Linked DNA regions of Homo sapiens. The protein of the gene in region 3 binds, or shares a complex with, the protein of the main gene of each other region. Each region holds a gene or a part of one and is shown on either strand. Other genes may lie near its edges. The genes, in order: CCT5, MAGEA3 and DCAF12. A codon is read from its position in the direction of its gene.

Region 1 (7,609 bases), on a different chromosome or scaffold from region 3:
TATAGATCAAAGTTACTGACTGGCCTTTTTTTTTTTGAGACAGTCTTGCTGTGTCTCAAAAAGGCTGGAGTGCAGTGGCATGATCTCAGCTCACTGCAACCTCCGCCTCCCGGGTTTAAGCGATCCTCCTGCCTCAGCCCCCCAGTAGCTGGGATTACAGGCACGCGCCATGACGCCCTGCTCATTTTTTTTTGTATTTTCAGTAGAGATAGGGTTTTGCCATGTTGGCCAGGCTGGTCTTTAACTCCTGACCTCAGGTGATCCACCTGCCTTGGCTGCCCAAAGTGCCAGGATTACAGGTTTGAGCAACCACGCCCGGCTGAAACTGGCCCTCTTAAGGAAGGTAAGTAGCTGTCAAAGTGATAATAAAAAAGTTACCTGTTTTTTTTTTCACATTTAGCTACCAAATTGAGTAATAGAATTATTATTATTATTATTTTTAAGGAGAAAGCAAGAGGCAGAAAGAAAAGGATGTAAAGAATTTGGCAAATAGGAGAGATCCCGAAATCCCGAGATCTATTTTGCCCTACTGCTCGGCAACGTGGAAAAAACCTTTTTCTTCCTTCTGCTAGTTCTGTGTGTTTCCAGAGGGAAGAGTATCAAACATCAAGGCATAATACATATTATGGATAAAACAGAATTATGCTGGCTGGCCTGGAAACTTAGCCTGCTCTGTTTTAGGTTACAGGATTTTAGAATATGATTCCTTCCTAAGCCAACTAATGCCTGCACCTTTTTTTTTTTTTTTTTGAGACGGAGTCTCACTCTGTCACCCAGGCTGGAGTGCAGTGGCGTGATCTCGGCTCACCGCAACCTCTGCCTCCCAGGTTCCAGCGATTCTCCTGCCTCAGCCTCCCAAAGTTCTGGGATTACAGGCGTGAGCCACCGCGCCCAGTCAATGCCTGCATTTTTAAGGTGAAATATTATACAGTTAAGTGTTAAACAAGTGAAGAATCTCAACAAAATACATATTACCTTTAAGGCTCTAAATGACCAGAGAGAAAGAACTGTGACCATTACCATTAAAACGTTCACGTCCTGGCCTATACATTTCTTTTACCGTTGCCTTCAATTTCCATATATTTTGGTTCTTCAAGTTAGCTGGACGTTCTATGAGGTCAGGGAGCAAGTGTATATCCCTAAACTGCTGAGCCTCAACACTCACAGGATGCCTACCAACAGCATCCAACTCTTTTAAGAGACTTAAACACCCAGGTTACTGTCCAAATGAGCTCCCACAGCAAAGAATGATCCGACCTCGAATGTCAATATGCCAAACTTGAGAATGCTGCTCTAGACCACTGGCTTTGACTCTGACAGCGGTGGCCCTGACCATGGTAATGCTCTTTAGTAGCAACTGCTCTTCAGAACAATTTCTCAACTGCTCTGGGCCCAAGTCCCCAGTTTTGTAAAATAACCCTGTCTCAGAGTGTGCGACTTCTGGGCACAAATGCATGCAGTTTGAACAAAATGGCTGATGCAAAACAACCTAGTTTTAGTTATGTTGTTACACCAGGTGTGTGTATTGGATGTTATTTTCTCTGCAGGTCCCTGTTAAGTGGAAAATAAAATGGAATACATAATACAATTAGCTTGAAACTTTTTCTTTCTAGAAAGGAAACAAATACTGAGTGCCTACCGTGGATCAACCACTGTGCAGCCCCTCTAAGTCACTCCATTTAATATCACTGTCAAGTCTTCAGCTTGACGGAGGCCTATCACCTCCCCCTGGAAAAGGAGGTTCCGCGAGGTTGTGTAACTAGCACTAAGTCAAACAAAGAGTCCATAGGGGAACTGTATTGTTTCTAACTTTGCGTAAGTAAACCTCCAAGACACTAAGTGAACAGGGACACCTGAGAGACCTAGTGGAATGGTCTATTATGAATTCACTTTATAACAAACCCTGAAGGCCCTCTCGGAGTGTCCCTTCCTCTGCATTTTCTGTCAACGTCTGGTGCTCAGATGTTTCTTACCTGCACCCCTGCCCTGGTTTCTTTAACCCCTCTGGTCTTCCTTATTCCCTTCGGTCTATCTCAAGCTTTGCTGCCTGAAGTGCAGCTCTACTGAAATTCTGCTCAAAACCCCCTCAATGGCTCCCCTTCTTCCCCAAAGATAACGTCGTATTTTCCATGTTGGGCATTCAATAGCTTCCACCTTCGGGAACTATTGTAAGTTAAAGAAGTCAGTGCTCCATTAAAACCGGATGGCTCTTCCATTCTACAACGTGCCATGCGCATTCTTGCCCAAGCCTTTACTTCTACCGTTTCCTCTCCCTAGAATGCTACCTCTCACCCCGATCTAAAGCTGTCCTCCAGCACCACGCTTATGTGCACCCTCTCCGTAGCTGTCCTTCTCACTGCACACCACCTTGTATTACGGTTATGTGCGTCCGTTTTTCACTCTTCGCTATTTTTCCTCAAGGGTGGGCAAAAAAGCACTCAGAAATGAAATACCCTGTTAAGTGACCACACCTTTACGAGTGACAAAGAAAACGGAAGGGCCGTTGCGGGTGGACCAGCGAAAGGTTAAGCAGCAGCGCCTTAACCGACAGGTGACAGAGCATCTCCCCGGCGCCCTCCCACTGGAGCGCAGTCCCACGCGGCCGTCAGGCTGGAGGAGCCGGGCGGGGAGGCGGTCCCGCTTTGCTCCCGCGGGCGACCGGACTGAGCGGCCCCACCCAGCTCCGAAGGGCGCTGGCGGCCCAGCCTGGCTGGCCCCCACATTCCGAGCCCAGGATTAGGCGCCGGCGTCTCCCGAGCTCAGTAAGCGGGCTGAGCGGCCGGAGACCGCAGGGAGACGGAGATTCTCGACCTTTCCGGGGAGCACATGGCAGAGCCGCTCCTCAACTCGCGCAGGCGCAGAGCCACGGCCTCGGCCACCTCCCCTTAGCCCACCGCGAGCAGGTCCCTGTGCCATTACCTTGAGGGCCTCAAGTCCCATAAGACGGGACTTGCGGTCCTGATCCTTGATGATGAGGAAAGGGCGCCCATATTCATCGAAGGCGAGGGTCCCCATGGACGCCATGGTGCAACAACCGGAATTACTTCCCCCCAACCGGCGGAGACCGCTACGGAAGCGAGAATGCACTTCCCTTTCTCGGGAGGGCCCAAAAGCTTGCGCACGCGCAGCACAAGACGCGCGGGACTTATGTTTCTACTGAGACTAATTTCACGCCAGACAGTATCTTCTGGAATCGGCGGCCTTCGGGAACTTCTATTATCCAGGAAGCCGGGGAGGGGGAGGTTTGAAGACACTTAGTGGAAATCTTAGGACACACAAGTCAAGAGCAGATTGAATTTGTCATTTTTTAAAACGTTACCACTGATAGTTTCTCGATAGTGGGTCCCAAGGAGGAATTCATTGACTTAAAGCACTATTTCTTTATTTCTTCGCACTCCGGCTCCGAGAAGATGGTAGGACCCATTTCCGGTTTTTTTTTTTTTTTTTTTTTTTTTTTTTTTTTTTTTAAAAACGCTGTTGGAAATCTCGCGATGGAGGGAGGAGGAGGTGAGGCTGGAGCGGCTTGGCGGGTTCCTGGGGGCATGAGAAGGGGTGCGGGCGGGCCGGGGGCTCGCGGTCAGCTGAGGTCTCCACTGTCGAGGCGGTGACCGGGTGCGGGCGGCTGCTCTGGCCTCCAGCCTGGCCTTCGGTGACCAGAGCTCCTGGTCGCCGCGCGGTGCCCGCGCCGGTTCTGGCGATCCTTGTCGGCGGGCGCGTTTCCCCAGAGACTGTTCTAGGCTACTTAGTGCAAGTGACTCAGCCTTTGGCACGATCTTAAGGAATAGGGATAGTGGAGGCACACTGATGGATTGGAATCGCAGTTCTGCCGCTCTTCCTAGCTGTGGCTTTGAGGAAATCCCTTAACTTCTTTGTCCCTCGGGTTCCCTGTCTGCAAAGTGACGGTGGTAACAGTAGTGCCTACTCACAGGGCTGCTGTGAGATTCAAGGAGAACGGTGCCTGGCAAGCTGAACACAGTGTTGGTAAATAAATTAACATTTTGCACAAATGGTTCAGTAACTTGCCACTGGTATACAGCTAGTAAGAAACAGTTACACAGCCTGATGCAATGGGTCCCACACTCTTTTTTTTTTTTTTTTTTTTTGAGACAAGACTGTAGCCCGGGCTGGAGTGCAGTGGCGCGGTCTCGGCTCACTGCAGCCTCCGCCTCCCGGGTTCCAGTGATTCTCGTGCCTCAGCCTCCCAGGCAGCTGGGACTACAGGCACAGAACCACCACGCTCGCTAATTTTTGTATTTTTAGTAGAGACGGTGTTAACGCCGTAGTGGCCAGGCTGGTCTCGAACGGCTGACCTCAAGTGATGTACCCGTCTAGGTCTCCCCAAGTGTTGGGCCTGAGCCACCGCGGTGCCCGGCAGGTCTCACTCTTAAGCCCTGTATTATGCTGCCTCAGAAAGATCTTGGCAACCGCAGCTGTCCTCTAAATCTCTTATGCTGCCTTCCTCCCCGCCCTCCAAGATCATGACTTAATATTTGATAGGTTTAGATTTATTTGTTGAGGGTTTCCATCCTTGCTTCTCCCCTACTGCCATGGGCAGGGACTTAACTAATAAAGTTGTATTATTCCCAGACTTTATTAGGCACTCAATAAGTGCTGAAATGAATACATGCACTATAACATTTGACCCTGTCCTGAAACTCAAGAACAGACTTGGCGACTGTGTTCCCATCTACTCTGGGGCTGAGGCAGGAGGATGGGTGGAGCCCAGGAGTTCAGTTTACAGTGCGCTATAATCGCGCCACTGCACTCCATCCTGGGCGACAGAGCGAGATTCTGTCTCTAAAAACAGGGAGGACTGACTGTCATGGGATGGTTGGTGATCTGTTAACTCTTCATGCTTGGCATACTTACGCGCTAGACCTTGAAGTGTTCTTCAAGGACATTTTAGATTTTGGAGTCAGGTCTTATTTCACGTTAGCTTTGCCAATTCAGTGTTTCCTCATTAAAAATGGTGACTTCTGCAATTCATTTGGCTCCTTCGATTGTTGTGAAAAATAGAATGTCCTATGGCATCCTCTGTGTAGTTGATTCCCTGTCAAAACACTGGGGAGTGAGAGAGGATTTTTCCTAATATCAATAGCTCATGTATGTCAAAAGGACACAAATGACATTAGACTAGTATAAGAAAGGCTTCTTAAGGACATAAGAATATATGCTAAAGGGACATAACATATGCTGTAGTTATTAAACAGGTATGCACATACAAGTGCACAATGAACAGTCCTTATGAGTTGTGACATTCTGATATAAGCCCGCTTTAAACACGTGGCTAGTTACTATTCCTAACAGGCTCCTTCTCTCTTCTTGGCCTTTTTCTTTTGGCTTGAACTTGGATAAGAACCTTGGGTACCTTATTGTACATCTGTCACTGCCTCTAGCTTCAGCTGATCCAAATCTGCCACTAAAAATTGAAGTTTTCAACCAATATTAGAAGTCAATAAGCAAGCAGGGCCCGGACACAGTAGAAGTTAACCTCATTCTGTGTTTGACTTTAAAGGATGGACTACTAAGTGCTCAATGAAAGTAGCCAGTGGCCACTGCAGCCATTATTTAATAGAATGGCTCCTTGTTCCAAAGAACACCTGAAAGAAAGTTCTTGCCATTTATATATAGGATAGTCTGGGAGTCTGAACATGTTCCGTTAGAAGGATTTGTAGAAACAGTCTTGATTTTAGTTTTGAATATTCAGGGCCTGATTTTTACTGATAAGAATCAATACAGGTCCTGGCATGGAGGCACTTTAGGAGGCTGAGGCGAGAGAATTGCTTGAGCCCAGGAGTTTGAGACCAGCCTGGGCAACATAGGGAGACCCTGTCTCTAAAGAAAAAAATTTAAAAAATTAGCTGGGTGTGGTGGCATGTGCCTGTAGTCCCAGCTACCTGGGAGGCTGAAGTGGGAGGATCGTTTGAGCCTGAGAGGTCAAGGCTGTGGTGAGCTGTGATTGTGCTACTGCACTCCAGCCTGGACGACAGAGTGAGACCCCATCGCAAAAAGGAATCAATTGTTTTTCCTGAATGGAGCTAACAATGTAGTTCCTATATTGTACATCCTATATTGGATGTACATAGTAACTTCTTCCAAAGCTCCAGCAATGGGTATGGATCTTGATTTCCCCATGCAAATGTTTGTTACGTTGCAAGACTTGCAGGCATCAAAACCTGGGACAGAAAATAGAATGATTTCATCAAGAGACTCATTGCCCCTGTGTTGCCTTTCTTAAAAACACAAATATTATGGTGACTTTGCTCAAAAAGTTTCATCACAGTGCACATAGAATAAAATACACATTCAGCCTGGCCTTCAGAGGCCTGCCTTCCTGTTTGTCTCTCACTCTGTGCTCCAGAAAGGCTTTCCCTGCCTTCCACACCTTGGTTCCAAGGCTTGCTGCTTTTGGCTCCAGCTCAAATATTCTCTCTGCCAACACCTCACTGGTCCCATTGTTGGAATCAGTCTTTCCTCCGCCTCTCCCATATGCCTGTAGCGTTTTGTTTGTGTTATAGCATTTCTCACAACCAGCCCTGTGTCTGCCTCTCCTGGACCCCACCCCTCATCTGCCTAGATGGGAGGCCGTGAAGAACAGGAACTTTTTATTACATCTTTTGCTGGTTGAATTGAAAGGTACATATCTACACAGGTGAAAAATGAAATTTGGGTCATCTGACTTGTGTTTGTTTAATAAACTTGGTGAACAAATGCGTAAGCAAAAATATGGCATATCCATACAATGGAATATTATTAAGCCATAAAAAGAAATAAAGAACTGATACAAGTTGCAACCTGGATGAATCTTGAAGACATGCTAAGTAAAAAATGTCAGTTACAGAAGTCCACACACTATACAATTCCATTCCTTTAAGTCCAGAATAGGGGATTCTTTTTTTTTTTTTTTCTTTCTTTTTTTTGAGAGACAGGGTCTTGTTCTGTCTCCCAGGCTGGAGTGCAGTGGTGCAATTTTGGCTCCTTGGCTCACTGTAACCTCTGCCTCCCCGGTTCAGGTGATTCTCTTGCCCCCAGCCTCCCAAGTAGCTGGGATTACAGGTGTGCACCACCATGCCTGGCTAATTTTTTTTTGGTATTTTAGTAGAGTTGTTGTTTCACAATATTGGCCAGGCTGGTCTGGAACTCCTGACCTCAAGTGATCCGCCCACCTCGGCCTCCCAAAGTGCTGGGATTGCAGGCGTGAGCCACTGTGCCAGGCCCCAGAATAGGGGATTCTTGAGACAAAAAGTAGATTAGTGGTTGCTTAGGGCTGGGGGATAGAGGGTGGATGCGGGGGTGATAGCTAAAGGATAAGGGGTTTCCTCTTGAGGTAATAAAAATGTTCAAAAATTGACTGTAGTGATGGTTGCATGTATCTGAATATAAAAAGAAACATTAAATTATATACTTTAAGCAGGCAAATTGTATGTATATGAATTATATCTCAAAGCTGTTAAAAATTGAGCCCCTCCTTGCATATGATAGTATTGAGAATAATAATAGCAATTAATAGTCATTACTTAGCCTCTCAGGCTTGTGCTAAATGCTTTGTTTACATTATTTACCTGTTCCAAGAATCCTATGAGGATAGTATTATTGCAAAATCTTTTTT
Region 2 (7,472 bases), on a different chromosome or scaffold from region 3:
CTCACGTCACAGGAGGCAGTGGAAACTAAGGGATGCGGCCCCGGAAGGTGCACTGGCCCAGACCCCCTCCCACTGGCCCTGGCTGCAACTCGTGCTCAGACTCACTCTTCCCCCTCTCTCAAAACCCACTCATGCAGGGGTGGGTAGGAAATGTGAGGTCCTCCACTGATCTTTACCATATGGTGCAGGACTTTCACATAGCTGGTTTCAACGAGGGCCCTTGGACCCCACAGGAATTCATAACATGCAGGATCACTGCCGGGGACCTGCCGGTACTCCAGGTAGTTTTCCTGCACGAAATGTTGGGTGAGCAGCTTCTTGGGATCCCCCAAGATACTGTCTTCCCTCCCCTCAAACACCTCTAACACACTCAGCTCCTCCCAGATTTTCTCCTCAGGGGCACAGTCGCCCTCTCTTGCGATTATGGCCAGGACGATTATCAGGAGGCCTGCCTTGGGCATGATCTGATTGTCACCCAGCAGGCCATCGTAGGAGAGGCCCAGGCAGGTGGCAAAGATGTACAAGTGGCCGATGGGGTCCACTTCCATCAGCTCGATGCCAAAGACCAGCTGCAAGGAACTGGAAGCTTTGCTGAAGATCACAGGAAAGAAATACTGCCAATTTCCGACGACACTCCCCAGCATTTCTGCCTTTGTGACCGGCTCCCTGGCTCGATACTTGAGGAGCAGAAAATGAACCAACTCGGCCACCTTCCTACTGAGTGCTGCTTGGAACTCGGACTCCAGGTCAGGGAAGGTGCTTGGCCCCTCCTCTTCTTGGTTGCTGGAGTCCTCATAGGATTGGCTCCAGAGAGGGTAGTTCATGGTAGTGGGGAGGCTGGAGGCTCCCTGAGGACTCTGGGGAGGATCTGGTGACTCGGCAGCAGGCACCTCCCCCAGGGTGACTTCAACTAGAGTAGAAGAGGAGGAGGCAGCCTCCTGCTCCTCAGTAGCAGGAGCCTGCGCACCCACCAGGCCCAGGGCCTCTCCTCGGGCCTCAAGGCCTTCTTCAGGCTTGCAGTGCTGACTCCTCTGCTCAAGAGGCATGATGACTCTGGTCAGGGCAACAGGCGGGAGTGTGGGCAGGAGCTGGGCAATGGAGACCCACTGGCCTGGGGAGAGAGGGAGCATGTGAGAGACCTCAGCTGAGTACTGAATGGAACCTTGGAGGCTCTAACAAAGGCTTACTTACAGATCTTCTCCTTCAGTGCTCCTCCGGGGGCCTCTGGTCCTCCAGGTCAGCCTGTCCCCTCAGAACCTGAAGGAGGAAGTGAGAGGGCACCTCAGGGTACATCCGGCCAGCGCATGCTGAGGCTGCAGGACTGAAAGTATTGAGGGTGAGGCCAGGCGCTCTGGAGTCCATGTGTTCTGGGGCAGGTGGGGCCCTTGGTTTGAATCCAAGGCAAACCTTCACCGTTGGCACTATCTGAGCCCCCTCTACTCTGTGACCTGAGGACACTGCCTCAGACCAAGTCCTCACTGCCTTGTTCCTGGAGCTCCTGATTCCTGGGAGAGGAATCCACGGGCCCCCAATGTGCAGACAGCAAACGCAGCCACGGATTCCCAGAACTGTCAGGAGGGTTGGCCAGACTCTGTGAGGTCCCCACTCTACTGGGGTGGAGGATCCCCTCTGTGCTCACTCAGGGCCCTCACCTTTCTCCTTATAGGGCCTAATCCCTCCCTTCTGCTGGCCTGAGAATCTCTCATGTCAAGAACTCACATACCTGATATGGTACAGAAAAACATGAGGGGACCCACATCTGGCCATACATTCCCAGGTCCTCCCGGAAAGGACAACGAGAGATGTCCAAATTTATTGAAGTCCATGTACCCTGGGTGAGGAGACTGCTTGGTCCTCACCTCCACTCCTAGTAGGGTCTGAGAGCCTCCCTCTACTGCCCTGAGTGCAGCCCCCTCAGACCAAGGCTTCCCCTTCCCTGACATCAGTGATCCTAGGATAATGGAGGGACCTCAGCTGACAGCCCTGCCCAGGCTCTCTGAGGTAACAGCAGGAGCAGGGCAGATTTTTATGGGGCCCCCAGTCCGCATTCTGTCCCAGGGGTACCCTCAATCCTCCCTCAGTCTCTTCACCTGGATGCTTGGCAGATCCTAGGACCACTGCATCTGTCCACCACATAGGGGCCCCTTGGGGGTACACCTTGGGCCCTGCAGATCCTGGGATTCCTCCCTCTGCTGACCTGAAGTCCCACTCTTCAGACCACAGCCCTCAACTCTCTGGTCACCCTGAAGGCGCAATGAGCACAGAGCACATTTGGCCACTGTGCCCAGCATCCCCCAGCCCAAGGTTGCCACTGATCTGGACTCCAAGGTCCCCTCAGTCCTCCCTCTTCTTCCTCCCCATGACTCCTCGCAGGGCTGGGCCCCAACCCCCTGCTGAAGTGGGTCTGCATCCCTAGGATTCCCGTAGCCGAATGAAAAGGTGCCTCGGTTTGAGACAGGGGTACAGTGGGCCCCCTGTCCTGGCATGCTGGGTCCCCTCAGGACTCCACTGTCTTCCAGGAGGGCCTGGGCCCTTTCGCTGCCTCCCAACGGCCATACTCGCGATACCGAACCCCTTCCCTCCCTTAGCCGTAGATGTGAACCTCAGGACTCACGTGCCTGGCCGCCATTCCCGGAGCTTCCGTGACTTGATACCAGGGGCAAAGCCCGGATTCTGCCAGGATAGGGGTGGGGGTGGGGATGGGAATGGGGAATGGGGGATGGGGGTGGGGTTGGTGTTGGGGGACGGGAATGGTGGTGAGGGTGGTGGTTAGGCTGCCCTCAGTTCCCTCTCGGGGTCCTGACCTTGATTCCTGCCACAGCGTGGGCCCTGACCTCTTCTAACCAGCCCTGCCCTGGCCACATTAAGCTCTGTCCCCAGAGTTCCCCGTGGCTAAAGCGGCGGGGGTCGGCGGGGTGAGGTAGTGGCGACCCAGCCTGGAAGTCTTCCCCTGCGGGGTGGCCCAGGCCCGGCAGCAGAGGCAGCACTGGATTATTTGAGGCCCTCTGTCTGAGGTGAGGCCCGCCTCAGTCCTCCCTCAGCGTCTTACCTTGCCTCCTCACCGAGCCTGGGCCGGCTTCCCTCCGCCGACGTCAGGCCGTCGCTCGTTGCTCAGGGCGAGAATCTCGCGGTCTTCTGACCTCCAATGCGCAAGTCAGTGGCGTCACATCCTGGCAACGGTACTACCCTGGGTTCCGGGCAGGGGTGGAACTGGATTCTGCCTGGATGGGGATCGGATGGGGGTGGAGGTAAGCATGAAGATGGTGATGGGGCAAGGGGTAAGGATTGGGACGGGGGTCCTGAGGCTGTAGATCCTGGTGGGGTCGGGGGAGTTGGGGGTGGGTGGGCGGGGCCTTCGGTCATCCCTCAGGGTCCTGAAGTTGATGCCTGGCTGAGCCTGGACCGCCATCCTCTGCAGATTGCTTCTGCTCCCCTCAGACCAAGTCTCTGACTCTGAGTCCCCCTGAAGTGGCATTGGGGGAAGGGGTGTGGTCTGGGTGACATCACTGCCTGCGTTTACCAGGGCTGACAAGAGGGGCTGAGCTGGATTCTGTGGTCCCTCTATGGTGTGTGGGGTGGGGGGGCGGTGTGGACCCTCAGTCCTCACTCAGGAGGGTCGTCTTCGTCACCTCTGGCTGTTGGATGAAGTGATGGGCAGGAGATGCTCTGTTTCTGTCACCTGTGAGCATTTGCACAGCTGCACCCCTTGTAGAGAATGCCTGCGGGTCCCAGGCCAGGTGCTCCCTGCAGGGCGGGGCGGCAGCTCCCGCGGTTGTAGTGACCTCCTATTTCAGTCTTTGTGTTCTGTTGAAAGAATTTTTTTTTTTTAAAAATGTAATTCCTCTGCCACTATGGTGGTTTCAGGTTGTTATTAGCAGAACTCTGGAGTCATACTGCCTTAACCAACCAAATTTTCCTGGTGTCCTGCTATTACCTAGGGCTCTTGGCATCGTGTTTTCAGAGGCTGCCTCAGATTGTGCAAAGAAGTGAAGTGGAAAATTTCAAACTTTTATTCTACCCATTCTGTCATCTACCGTGTAGGCCGGCTACAAACCTCCCCAACATCCCTGCTGCTAACCCCCTCCAACCAACACTGCAAGTGTCAAACACAAGTACCAGCTCAACACAGCCTTGAGTCTCACCCTGGGCTTTCCCTGTTTTGTTGCGTAGATTTTGTTGCTGATACTGGTTTTTTATTTACTGTTTCCATTCTGTAATTTTCCAGGTTTGATTTGGGAAGCAGAGCACAGCAGCCCAAATTTGTTGTAATGGCGGCGGCTACAGGTAAGGCACTAAATTGTAAATAATTTAAGCTGAGTTTACATTTTTACAGTGTTGTGCTCCCCATGAATGAATATGTTATACTCCTCTATGTATTTCAAGCTTTTTTTTACCTGAATATGTCAGTATACTTCGACAGTTGTCTCTATAAAGACCTTATACATTTTTATTAGACTTCTTTTCAGGCAATTCATGAATTTTGTTGCTATTGCAAATGGCATATTGTCTATTAATTGTTGTAGTTAGTTATTGCTTTCGTGAGGTGAAGATTTTGATTTTGCTGTAGTAATCTGTTGCACTCCTCGTTCTGAAGGCCGATGCACTTGAATATTCCACATACCTTTTCCTTTGAATTTTCAAGATCGATAATGGTATTATCACTAAACATTACATATTCTTCCAGTATTCATACCACTTACTCATTTTGGTACTTATAGCTCTTTGTGTCTCAATCCTGATTTCAATCGTAGAGATAATAGCCTACATCTACTTCTCGTTCCTGACGTGAATGATAATTATTCGAACGTTTTGCATTTAAGTATGTTTGCTGTTGATTTTAGGAAGTGCAATTTCTCTTTGAATATAGGTTAAATACTTTTTTTTTTTTTACCATGAACTCATATTAAATTTCTTTAAAAAGCTTTTTCTGTACCCGTTGACACAATCAAATTTTTTTCTCCTCCATTTTGTATGTAAGGAATTACAATGAAACCGTTTTTTTTTTTTCCCCTAATGTTAAACCGTATGTTATTTCCTTGGGCAGAGCCTGTTTATTTAATATGCTAGTAATTTACGTAGGATATTTGCTGCTATGTAAGGGAGCTTACTTAATGTGTGCTTTTTTTCCCATCAAGGGTGGGATGTGGTCCTCATCTGGTTTTTGAATCCAGGAGGGCTAGTCTGGAAGAATGAATTGAACAATTGTAAATATTTTGTATGTTCTAGAAGAGATGAGATAAGATGGTGGTTAGTTTTCCCTGATCATTTGGTAGAATTGGCCTCCAATACTGCCTAACCTGGAATGTTTGAAGGTGGCTTGAGCTTTGAACATTGTACAGTTTCAGTTTTTATAGTTTAATTAAAGTTTTCTTTTTCTTTTTGGATCAGTTTGGTTACTGGTTTATTTTATTTCTACAAAGTGGTCAGTTTCATTTAGGATTTCACTTTTAATGGCATATTTATTATAAAAAAAGTTTTACTAGGGAAAGCCTTCACACATACAGAATAATAGGAACTAATGTAATGAACCCAGGATACTAGATACCCAGCATGAACAACTTTAAATACACAGCAAATCTGGTTCCAGTTAGACACTTGCCTACCTGCACATCAGCTTCTGGAATAACGTGGAGCGAATCTAAGGCATTAGACCATTTCATCTCGAAATAACTCAATATGCATTTTTAAAAGATAAGGACGTTTTATTAAACAGAATCCCAATAGTTTTCATATCTGAAAAATTATATAAATGATTATCAAATATTCAACTATTTTACATGCTTATCTGGCCGACTTATACTTTATAAAAAACATATTTCTTTGATGGAGTACCCAAATATGGTAACTTTCCCGCCACTTGCTTCACTGTAGTGGTTTCATACATGTATAATACAGCTAGGTTTGTGTGTGTGTGTAACATTCTACATTCTGTCCCATGATTCTCCAACTTCTTAAGTTACTTTTAGACTTTACATACATTAAGCTTCACTCTTTGTGCTGTAAAGATCTATGGGTTTTGACAAATGCCTCGTGCCGTTGTCTTAGTCCCTTTGGGCTTCCATAACAAAAATAGTGTAGACTGGGTGGCTTATAAACAACACAACTTTATTTCTCACATTCTAGAGGTTGGGAAGTCCAAGATCAAGGTGCTGGCAGATTTCATGTCTGATGGAGACCTGCTCCCTAGTTCATAGACAGTTGCCTTTCCCCTATGTCCTCACATGGAAGAAGGGGCAAGGGATCTCTGTGGAGTCTATTTTATAAAAACACTGATCCCATTCATGAGGACTCTGCTCTCATGAACTAGTCATTCTCCAAATACCCCACCTTCTACCTAATACCATCACCTTGGTATTTCAGCAGATGAAGTTTGTGGGAACACAAATATTCAGATGAAAGCAAGCATGCATCCACCATTACAGTATTACCATACTAGTTTCACTGCCCTGATAAATCCCCTGTGCTTGTCAGATAACCCCCTTGGCTGCCACTGATAGGTGTTTCATCTTTATAATTTTGCCTTTTCCTGAATGTCATATAAATAGACTCGCATACTATGTAGCCTTTTTAGACTGGTTTCTTTCACCTAGCATAATGAACTGAAGAGTCATGTATAACTTTGTGTGGCTCAGAACTTATTCCTTTTCATTGAGGAGTAGTAGTATCATTGTCTGGTTGTACCATAGTGCGTGTGTATATATATATCCATCCACCAAATGAAATACATTTTGGATGCTTCTATTTTTGGTGATTATGAAATAATCTTTTGTATACAATCGTATACAAATTTTTATGTAGACGTAAGTTTTCACGTCAATTGGGTAAATTGATTATGACTGCTGAATCTTATGCTGTGTTCAGTTTTTTAAGAAAACGCCAAATTGTCTTCCAAAGTGGCTGTACCATGTTGCATTTCCACCAGCAATGAATGAGAGTTTCTGTTGCTCCACATCTTCCCTGGCAATTGATCTTGGTTTTCTTTTCTTTTTTTTTTTTTTTTTGCTTTTTTATGGATTTTGGACATTCTAATAGGTGTGTAGTGGTATCTCATTTTAGTACACAGTTATCTAATGAGAACGGATTCTCAGTACTTTTTTATGCTTATTTGCCATGTGTATATCTTCTTTTGTGAGGAGTGTGTTCAGATCTTTGCCTATTTTCATGTTTTTTCTGTCGTTGAACTTTAAGAATTCGTGTATGTTGTAGAGATATGTTCTTTATCACATATGTGTACCACCGATGTTTTCTGCTAGTCTGTGGCTTCTGTTTTCATTCTCTTAACATTGTCCTTTGAAGAGCACATGATGTTTATTTTAATAAAATCTACTTGGTAAATTTTTCTTTCATTGATCATGCTTTTGGTGTTGAATTTAAAAACTCACCACTGAACTCAAAGTTATGTGAATTTTCTCTTATGTTTTCTTATAGAGGGTTGTATAGTTTTTGCATTTTGCATTAGGTCTGTGATTTAT
Region 3 (7,504 bases):
CATCCTGACCAACATGGAGAAACCCCATCTCTACTAAAAATACAAAAACATTAGCCAGGCGAGGTGGTGGGCACCTGTAATCCCAGCTACTCAGGAGGCTCAGGCAGGAGAATCGCTTGAACTCAGGAGGCAGAGGTTGCAGTGAGCTGAGATTGCACCATTGCACCCAGCCTGGGCAATGAAGCGAGACTGTCTCACAAAAAAAAAAAAAAAAAAAAAAGAAAAGAAAAGAAAAATGAAAGAAATTTCCAGGCTAGGCATGGTGGCTGATGCCTGTAACCCCAGCACTTTGGGAAGCCGAGGTGGGTGGATGACCTGAGGTCAGGAGTTTGAGACCAGCCTGGCCAACACGGTGAAACCCTATCTCTACCAAAAATACAAAAATTAGCCAGGTGTGGTGGCGCAGGCCTGTAGTCCCAGCTACTTGGGAGGCTGAGGCAGGAGAATTGCTTGAACCCGGAAGGCAGAGGTTGCAGTGAGCTGAGATCGTGCCACTGCACCCCAGCCTGGGTGGGAGAATGAGACTCTGTCTCAAAAAGAAAAAAAAGAAATTTCCAGAACCTCAGAAGGCTCCCTGAGGTCCCCTGCCAGTTAGTAATCCCGCTTAAGGGTAATGACTGATTTCTCTTACCATGGATCAGTTGTGCCTGTTTTCATACTTCAAAAACATGAAATTAGGCATTTACTAATTACATTTAGGAATTACTGCTTTGGTTGGCCTCAGTGTCTCATACCTGTAATACCAGCACTTTGGGAGGCCAAGGTGGGAGGATCGCTTAAGCCCAGGAGTTTAAGACCAGCCTGGGCAACCAGGCGAGACCCTGTCTCTACAAAAGATAAAAAATAAGCTGGGTGTGGTGGCACATGCATGCCATGCCACTGCACTCCAGCCTGGGCAACAAAGCGAGAACTTGTCCCTCAAAAAATAAAAATAAAAAAAGGAATTACTGCTTTGTGTTTGACTTTTTTGGAGACAGGTCTGGATCTCCCAGGCTGGAGTGCAGTGGCATGATATTGGCTCTCCACCTGCAACCTCCACCTTCTGGGCTCAAGCTATCCTCCCACCTCAGCCTGCCAACTCCCAAGTAGCTGGGACTACAGGTACATGCCACCCCACCCAGCTAATTTTTGTATGTTTCTATAGAGACAGGATTTTCCCATGTTGCCCATGCTGGTCTCAAACTCCTGAGTTCAAGCAATCTACCTGCCTCAGCCTCCCAAAGTGCTAGGATTACAGGGGTGAGCCCCGTGCCCAGCAGTGTGTTTGATTTTTTTTTCTTTTCTTTTCTTTTTTTGAAACGGAAACTCATTCTGTTGCCCAGGCTGGAGTGCAGTGGCTCGATCTCGGCTTACTGAAGCCTTGGTCTCCTGGGTTCAAGCGATTCTCCTGCCTCAGCCTCCTGAGTAGCTGGGACTACTGGCGGGCACCACCATGCCCAGCTAATTTGTGTATTTTTAGTAGAGAGGGGGTTTCACCATGTTGGCCAGGCTGGTCTCAAACTCCTGACCTAAGGTGATCCACCCGCCTTGGCATCCCAAAGTGATGGGATTACAGGTGTAAGCCACCACGCCTGGCCTGATATCTTTTATGCAATATTATAAAATTCATTCACACAGTTTTGTCAAGGTGAAATAAAATATATAGATGAATCTCTAAAATTAAAATGTTTTGTGAAGCAGGAATTGTAATTCAGGGCACACGCAGACTGGGTGGTCTTTGCCATGTCTGCAGAACAAAGAGAAGGTTGGAAGTTTTGTAAAAAGGAAGTGTTATGTATTGCTCTTCAAGAAAGTTCACTGGCACTAGTAAGGTTTTGGAGAGCTGGCAAGTTTTGATTGGTAAGTGAAGGCAATAAGTAAAACTATTTCTGAGAGTCACAGTAGGTTGTTTTAACAGCTATTAGATAAAACTGCTTTCAGATTATAGCACGCAGTTTCAGCAGTGAGGCTCACTAAGAATGCCATTCTTGGAGTAGTTACATGCCCTGAGTACTTTTTCCCCCAGCCACTCTACTACTTTATTATTGTTATCATTATTATTTTATTATTTTATTTTTTACACAGGGTCTTGCTCTGTCACCCTGGCTGGAGTCCAGTGGCATGATCTCAGCTCACTGCAACCCAGCTACTCAGGAGGCTGGTCTCGAACTCCTGACCTCAGGTGATTGGCCCAACTCGGCCTCCCAGTGTGCTGGGATTACAGGCGTGAGCCACCGCACCTGGCCTGCAGTCTTTTAAAGGCAATTGTCAATTAAATTTCCAAAATGGACTTTCATTCTGTTATTTGAATAGAAATGGTGAGCTCTTGGCCAGCCGTGGTGGCTCATGCCTGTAATCCTAGCACTTTGGGAGGCCGAAGTGGGCGGATCACCTGAGGTCAGGATTTTGAGACCAGCCTGGCCAACATGGCGAAACCCCATCTCTACTGAAAATACAAAAATTAGTGGGCAACCATCCTGGCTAACATGGTGAAACCCCGTCTCTACTAAAAATACAAAAATTAGTGGGCAACCATCCTGGCTAACATGGTGAAACCCCGTCTCTACTAAAAATACAAAAAATTAGCCAGGCGTGGTGGCGGGCGCCTGTAGTCTCAGCTATTCGGGAAGCTGAGCCAGGAGAATGGCGTGAACCCAGGAGGCGGAGCCTGCAGTGAGCCGAGATCGCACCACTGCACTCCATCCTGGGCGACAGAGCGAGACTCCGTCTCAAAAAAGAAAAAAAAAAATTAGCTGGGCAACGTGGCGAGCACCTGTAATCTGAGCTACTCAGGAGGCTGAGGTAGGAGAATCACTTGAACCCAGGAGGCAGAGGTTGCAGTGAGCCGAGATCGTGCCACTGCACTCCAGCCTAGGCTACAGAGTGAGACTCCATCTCAAAAAAAAAAAAAGAAAAGAAATCGCGAGCTCTGCTATAAGGTACATTTGGGGATGGTTCCTAGGTTGTGAAGATGAAGTAAAGGAACTTTGAGAAAGAGACTGCAGCAGTGCCCAGTGTGCCCCTCTTGGCACTGACAGCCCAATCTGAGCCTAGAGATTCTCAAAGGATTCCAGACTCTTGCCCAGGGGCTCTTGGGTCATCCAGAGCATTGCGGGGCAAGACAGAATTAGAACAGACTCAAAAAAGAAAGCTGACCCACTCCTGACCCACTCACTATGTGCATATCTCTAAAGGGACAGGCCTGACCAAATAAGATGGAGCTGCCTTTCGCAAGACATTAGGGGTTAGTGGTAGTGCCGACTTGGGATGGCAGGAGACCCTGCTTCAATCTGGTCTTTGATTCGGCTTGGAAAACAAATCCAAATCTCCTTGTTGACAGAACTTGAGATGGTCCAACAGAGCTCCTTGGAGGTATGAGGCCTGAGGCCTGAAGCCTGAAGTGACCAGCAGGTAACTGGGCACCACAGCCTGAGGCCAATCAGCCCCAAGCAAGAGCATCCTGCTTCCTCAGAGGGTTTGTTTGCTTGAGGAAAGCGAAGGCTGGCAGTCATATTCCTTCAGGATCTTCCAAAAATGTTGGCAAGGGTGATCCTGATGAAGCCCCCTTGTTTGGAGGCCAATGCCAGCTCTAACTGGACTGGCAAGCCAAAAATGACCACTCTCTTTCCTGTAGTTCAGAATTCCCGACCTGCCCTAATGGAGACGCAACCTGAATCCAAGAGTGAGGCAGGCAGCTACAGATAAGTTTACAGCGTGATGACTACTTCATAAAGCACAAAAGACCATGTGGTTTAGATGGCAGGTCATGGAAATCTAAAGGGAATGGTGAAGTTGCACCGTAAGGGGAAGGTGACTGAGGAGCTGAAACTGACTGAGGGGCTGAAGCATTTCGGACAGGAGAAAGGATCAGGAGGAGACAGAGCGGAGAATGGAGCCTCAGGGCTACCCAGCGGTGGGAAGAGGGTAGCCAGAGACTCGTAGGGCGGCCTGGGTTGGTTGTGCTGGGCAGGTTCTCAGTGGTGGGAAAGTCTGGCCACACTGCCCTGACTTCCTGACTGGACTTCACCTCGAGGGTGGGAGCGGTTCCTGCCCCCCACCCCCCCACCCCCCTGTCCAGCCCTTGGAGCCAGGGCACGGTTTGTGACAGATTCAGGGAAACGTTTGGTGCCAGATGGGAGGTAACCGGGTTAAGGCCTGCACTAGGGAGGATTCCTTCCCCCAGCAGCACTGGTGGTCCTCACTTCCGGGTGCCTGCGGATAGGCGGGCTGGGGTCGGAGGTCGGCGGCCAGAAGCCAGATTCCCTTGGCCCCAGCTCGTCCACTTCCATCCAGCAGTAGCCAAACAACCGTTGAAAATGGCCTGGCGGCGGCCGGGAAACACCAGAGAACTATCTTCCAACCCCTAGATCCCGCCCATCTCGTTCCGGCGGTGTTTCCGTGGCGACGCTATCCGAAGTGCGGCTGCGCAAGGGTGACGGCGCGCGAGCAAGGGGGAGGGGGTGTTTTGGTTCTAGCCGCTCGCCGTCCTTGCAGGCTCTGCCGTCGGAAAGCCGCTCATTCTCGCTTCCCCTTCCCTTTCCCGGCTCAAGTCCTTCCTCTCTCTTTCCTTTCTTTCCGCCTATCTTTTTTCTGCTGCCGCTCCGGGTCCGGGCCATTTTCCGGGCCGGGCGCACTAAGGTGCGCGGCCCCGGGGCCCAGTATATGACCCGCCGTCCTGCTATCCTTCGCTTCCCCCGCCCCATGTGGCTGCGGGGCCGCGGCGGCGCTGCCCACTATGGCCCGGAAAGTAGTTAGCAGGAAGCGGAAAGCGCCCGCCTCGCCGGGAGCTGGGAGCGACGCTCAGGGCCCGCAGGTGAGGGTTGAGAGGCCGGCACCTGGGTGGTGAGGCTGAGGAACCAAGATGGGCTTAGGGTCCGCAGATCCTGCGACGGGAATCGGGGTCCAGGGTCTGCAGTCAGAGGCAAAACAGGAATGGGTTCAGGGCCTATAGGGTCAGGACTGGACCCTCGTTAACTGGAGGGCAGATAGGCCAGGGCGGTGAGGAGCCAAAGGGGAACTCAGGAATGGGACATAATCCGCGGGAGGCCTGCATTCGTGGATAGGGCTTGAAAAGAAACCAGAATCTTGGCTTTGGAGGAAGGGGAAACCGAAGTTAAGGGAATCGGAAACAAACTCTGGTAGAGTGAACTCTACCTTCCATGGGCCCTAGGAAGCTGGGATGATTGCGTCCCTCCTGGAAGAAGGAAGTAGTCTCCCTATATGTATACCCAACCCTGAGCTGGGCCTTTCGGCGTTTGGACCCCAAAAGAAACAACAGTTCCCAGGTATCATCTCTATGCCGCCCCCTTTGGAGGGGAAGGCCTTCTTGGACATAGATATGGCCTCTGATTTCCCGGGGGCCTACTACCCCGTTGGCGGTTGATTTTTCGAATTCTGCAACTGCCTGGAGCGCGGGCATGATGACAGAGGAACGGTCATTGATGATGCATCCCTGGAAGACCTGGGAGCCAGGTCTGGCTCCTTGGACTGTATCTTCCGTGCTCCAGTGGGAGTACAGACTGAGAGGGAGAAGGGGGCTGGGTAGAGATGCAGCCCATGTCGGTATGGGAATCACTCTACCTCTCATTTCCTTCAATCTTTCACTCCTAAAATGTCTAGTAAACCTTTTAGTCTGTTCTATTCTGCATTCATTCCCTTGACTTTCAGCCCTTGTAATTCACATTGGTAAGTTTGACTGTGAGCAACATCTTTTTAATGTTGGAAGAGTTAAACGACTTTCTGGATTGAGATTCTTGTTCTCTTGTGTTTGTATTTGTGTTGTTTGTAAATTCTGCAGTATGAGTTATGAGTTGGTGATTTCTGTAATACAGTAGGATCTGTTCTGAAGAAGAGTAGCCAAAGCCCTGATTTCTAATGTTGTTTCCACAGTTTGGCTGGGATCACTCGCTTCACAAAAGGAAAAGACTTCCTCCTGTGAAGAGATCCTTAGTATACTACTTGAAGAACCGGGAAGTCAGGCTACAGAATGAAACCAGCTACTCTCGAGTGTTGCATGGTTATGCAGCACAGCAACTTCCCAGTCTCCTGAAGGAGAGAGAGTTTCACCTTGGGACCCTTAATAAAGTGTTTGCATCTCAGTGGTTGAATCATAGGCAAGTGGTGTGTGGCACAAAATGCAACACGGTAAGTGCCTGGGGGGATGTGACCTCTCTCCTAGGTCGTGGATATATTGCTCCACTTGCTCTAGAACCTCTGCTAGTTTTCCCGTCTGTTTCTTTTAGGAGGGACTTGCCTTACTCTCCTTTCCATTCTTTCCCGTTGGTGACTTCTTCCTCTTTTCGTGTTCCTTTTTTCACTCATACATTTCTTTTCTGATAAGTCCTCAAAGGAGTGTATTTCTTCAGGCCCTCTCTGGATGTGCTGCTTCTAGAGGGTTGTTTGTTTGTTTGTTTGTTTTTGCCTCATATTTTTATGCTGGTTTTTAAGTCATAGGCCTCAAAGGAAAGATTTAAGAAATAATGATGCTTAGAGCATCATTCAGGATACATAATAGTGAAAACAGCCTAAGAACGTATGTCGAAGTATTTAAAATAGCACACTTGGCTGTTTTTTAGTGAACAGAATCTAAAAATGTATAAACTGAAATATGAGAAATACATGAACTGTTTCCTATAAGGAAGGCAGGGAATGTGTGTCTGGTAGTATATTTCAGGGTATAAGCATTAGCTCTTTGGAAAGTAGCCTTTTTAAGAGTGAATAGAAAGACAGTTATAAATGAATGAAGTGAAAAATTTCTCAGTAAGCTTTGTAACCAACCCAATTATAGGCCAGGATAAAATAAGTCAAAGAGCAGAAACGTTTGGAATAGAGTCCACGAATAGCATGATGTCACAAGACTGGCAAATGAAAAGAGGCAGGGCCTAGGGCCTAGGGGTGGGAAATGATTACGCCCAGCCCTCCCTCGGTTTTCACCTCCCCTGTGTGAATGGACAAGTAATGTCATAATGTGTGAGTAAATTGACCCTGGAATGAAACACATTTTGGATCATTAAAAGAGAGAAGATTGCTCTAGATCAAGAAAGTCTTAAGTACTAGGAGAAGTGTCTGTTTATAAAGGACATAGGCAAAAATTTAAACAGTTTTAAGGAAGGAAATAATACCATGGTGGTTGGTCTGTTTATAAAGGACATAGGCAAAAATTTAAACAGTTTTGAGGAAGGAAATAATACCATGGTGGTTGGGGCCAACCTTTCGTTTCCTCTTCTGTTGAGGAGTCGCTTGTCTTACCCAGAAGCCTTTCAAAACTAAGTGGTGGCAACGGGCCTCCACAGAACTTCCTTTTCTTGGTCTCTCCAGCTGCCCACTCGTGGTTAAGAACTGTCATCCTTGTCACTTGGAGTAGAAAAAGAGTCTCCTGCTTGGAAGAGTTCATTCCACTCCCCGCACGTGCATCATAGTGTTTAGCCTAGCAAATATTACTGAATTGTAAACTGAATTAATCATCATAGCCTCTTGCTTGTTGAATTTATTGACACTATTTTGAAGGCGAGCATAATAAGTAATA

The links.
Region 1: the proteins of DCAF12 (region 3) and CCT5 are in contact, whole or in part, in a cryo-EM structure (PDB 8AJM), measured with the Homo sapiens proteins. Residues at the interface, in NP_056212.1 of Homo sapiens: Lys91 (codon at 6,061), Phe93 (codon at 6,067), Lys108 (codon at 6,112), His144, Trp186, Phe188, Arg203, Lys254, Arg256, Glu298, Val300, Arg344, Phe411, Tyr422, Leu440, Pro441, Ser442, Gly443; in NP_036205.1 of Homo sapiens: Gly537, Glu538, Ser539, Glu540, Glu541.
Region 2: the proteins of DCAF12 (region 3) and MAGEA3 are in contact, whole or in part, in a cryo-EM structure (PDB 8T9A), measured with the Homo sapiens proteins. Residues at the interface, in NP_056212.1 of Homo sapiens: Lys91 (codon at 6,061), Phe93 (codon at 6,067), Lys108 (codon at 6,112), Cys141, His144, Phe188, Arg203, Arg256, Val300, Arg344, Tyr410, Phe411, Tyr422, Leu440, Pro441, Ser442, Gly443; in NP_005353.1 of Homo sapiens: Arg310 (codon at 119), Glu311 (codon at 116), Gly312 (codon at 113), Glu313 (codon at 110), Glu314 (codon at 107).

What each region holds. Positions count from the first base shown.
Region 1 is NC_000005.10:10,245,756-10,253,364, reverse strand, and holds the start of CCT5 (T-complex protein 1 subunit epsilon), read right to left. Parts: upstream 3,086-7,609; 5' UTR 3,025-3,085; coding exon 2,920-3,024; intron 2,829-2,919; exon of another isoform or gene 2,472-2,828; intron 1-2,471. Other genes in the region: ATPSCKMT (ATP synthase subunit C lysine N-methyltransferase), read left to right, coding at 3,492-3,507. UniProt on the Homo sapiens protein: Component of the chaperonin-containing T-complex (TRiC), a molecular chaperone complex that assists the folding of actin, tubulin and other proteins upon ATP hydrolysis.
Region 2 is NC_000023.11:152,694,407-152,701,878, reverse strand, and holds the start of MAGEA3 (melanoma-associated antigen 3), read right to left. Parts: upstream 3,086-7,472; 5' UTR 3,050-3,085; exon of another isoform or gene 2,805-3,049; intron 2,674-2,804; exon of another isoform or gene 2,615-2,673; intron 2,574-2,614; exon of another isoform or gene 2,091-2,573; intron 1,322-2,090; exon of another isoform or gene 1,258-1,321; 5' UTR 1,192-1,257; intron 1,112-1,191; 5' UTR 1,047-1,111; coding exon 102-1,046; 3' UTR 1-101. UniProt on the Homo sapiens protein: Activator of ubiquitin ligase activity of RING-type zinc finger-containing E3 ubiquitin-protein ligases that acts as a repressor of autophagy. May enhance ubiquitin ligase activity of TRIM28 and stimulate p53/TP53 ubiquitination by TRIM28.
Region 3 is NC_000009.12:34,123,642-34,131,145, reverse strand, and holds the start of DCAF12 (DDB1- and CUL4-associated factor 12), read left to right. Parts: upstream 1-4,447; 5' UTR 4,448-4,714; coding exon 4,715-4,792; intron 4,793-5,868; coding exon 5,869-6,123; intron 6,124-7,504. UniProt on the Homo sapiens protein: Substrate-recognition component of a DCX (DDB1-CUL4-X-box) E3 ubiquitin-protein ligase complex of the DesCEND (destruction via C-end degrons) pathway, which recognizes a C-degron located at the extreme C terminus of target proteins, leading to their ubiquitination and degradation.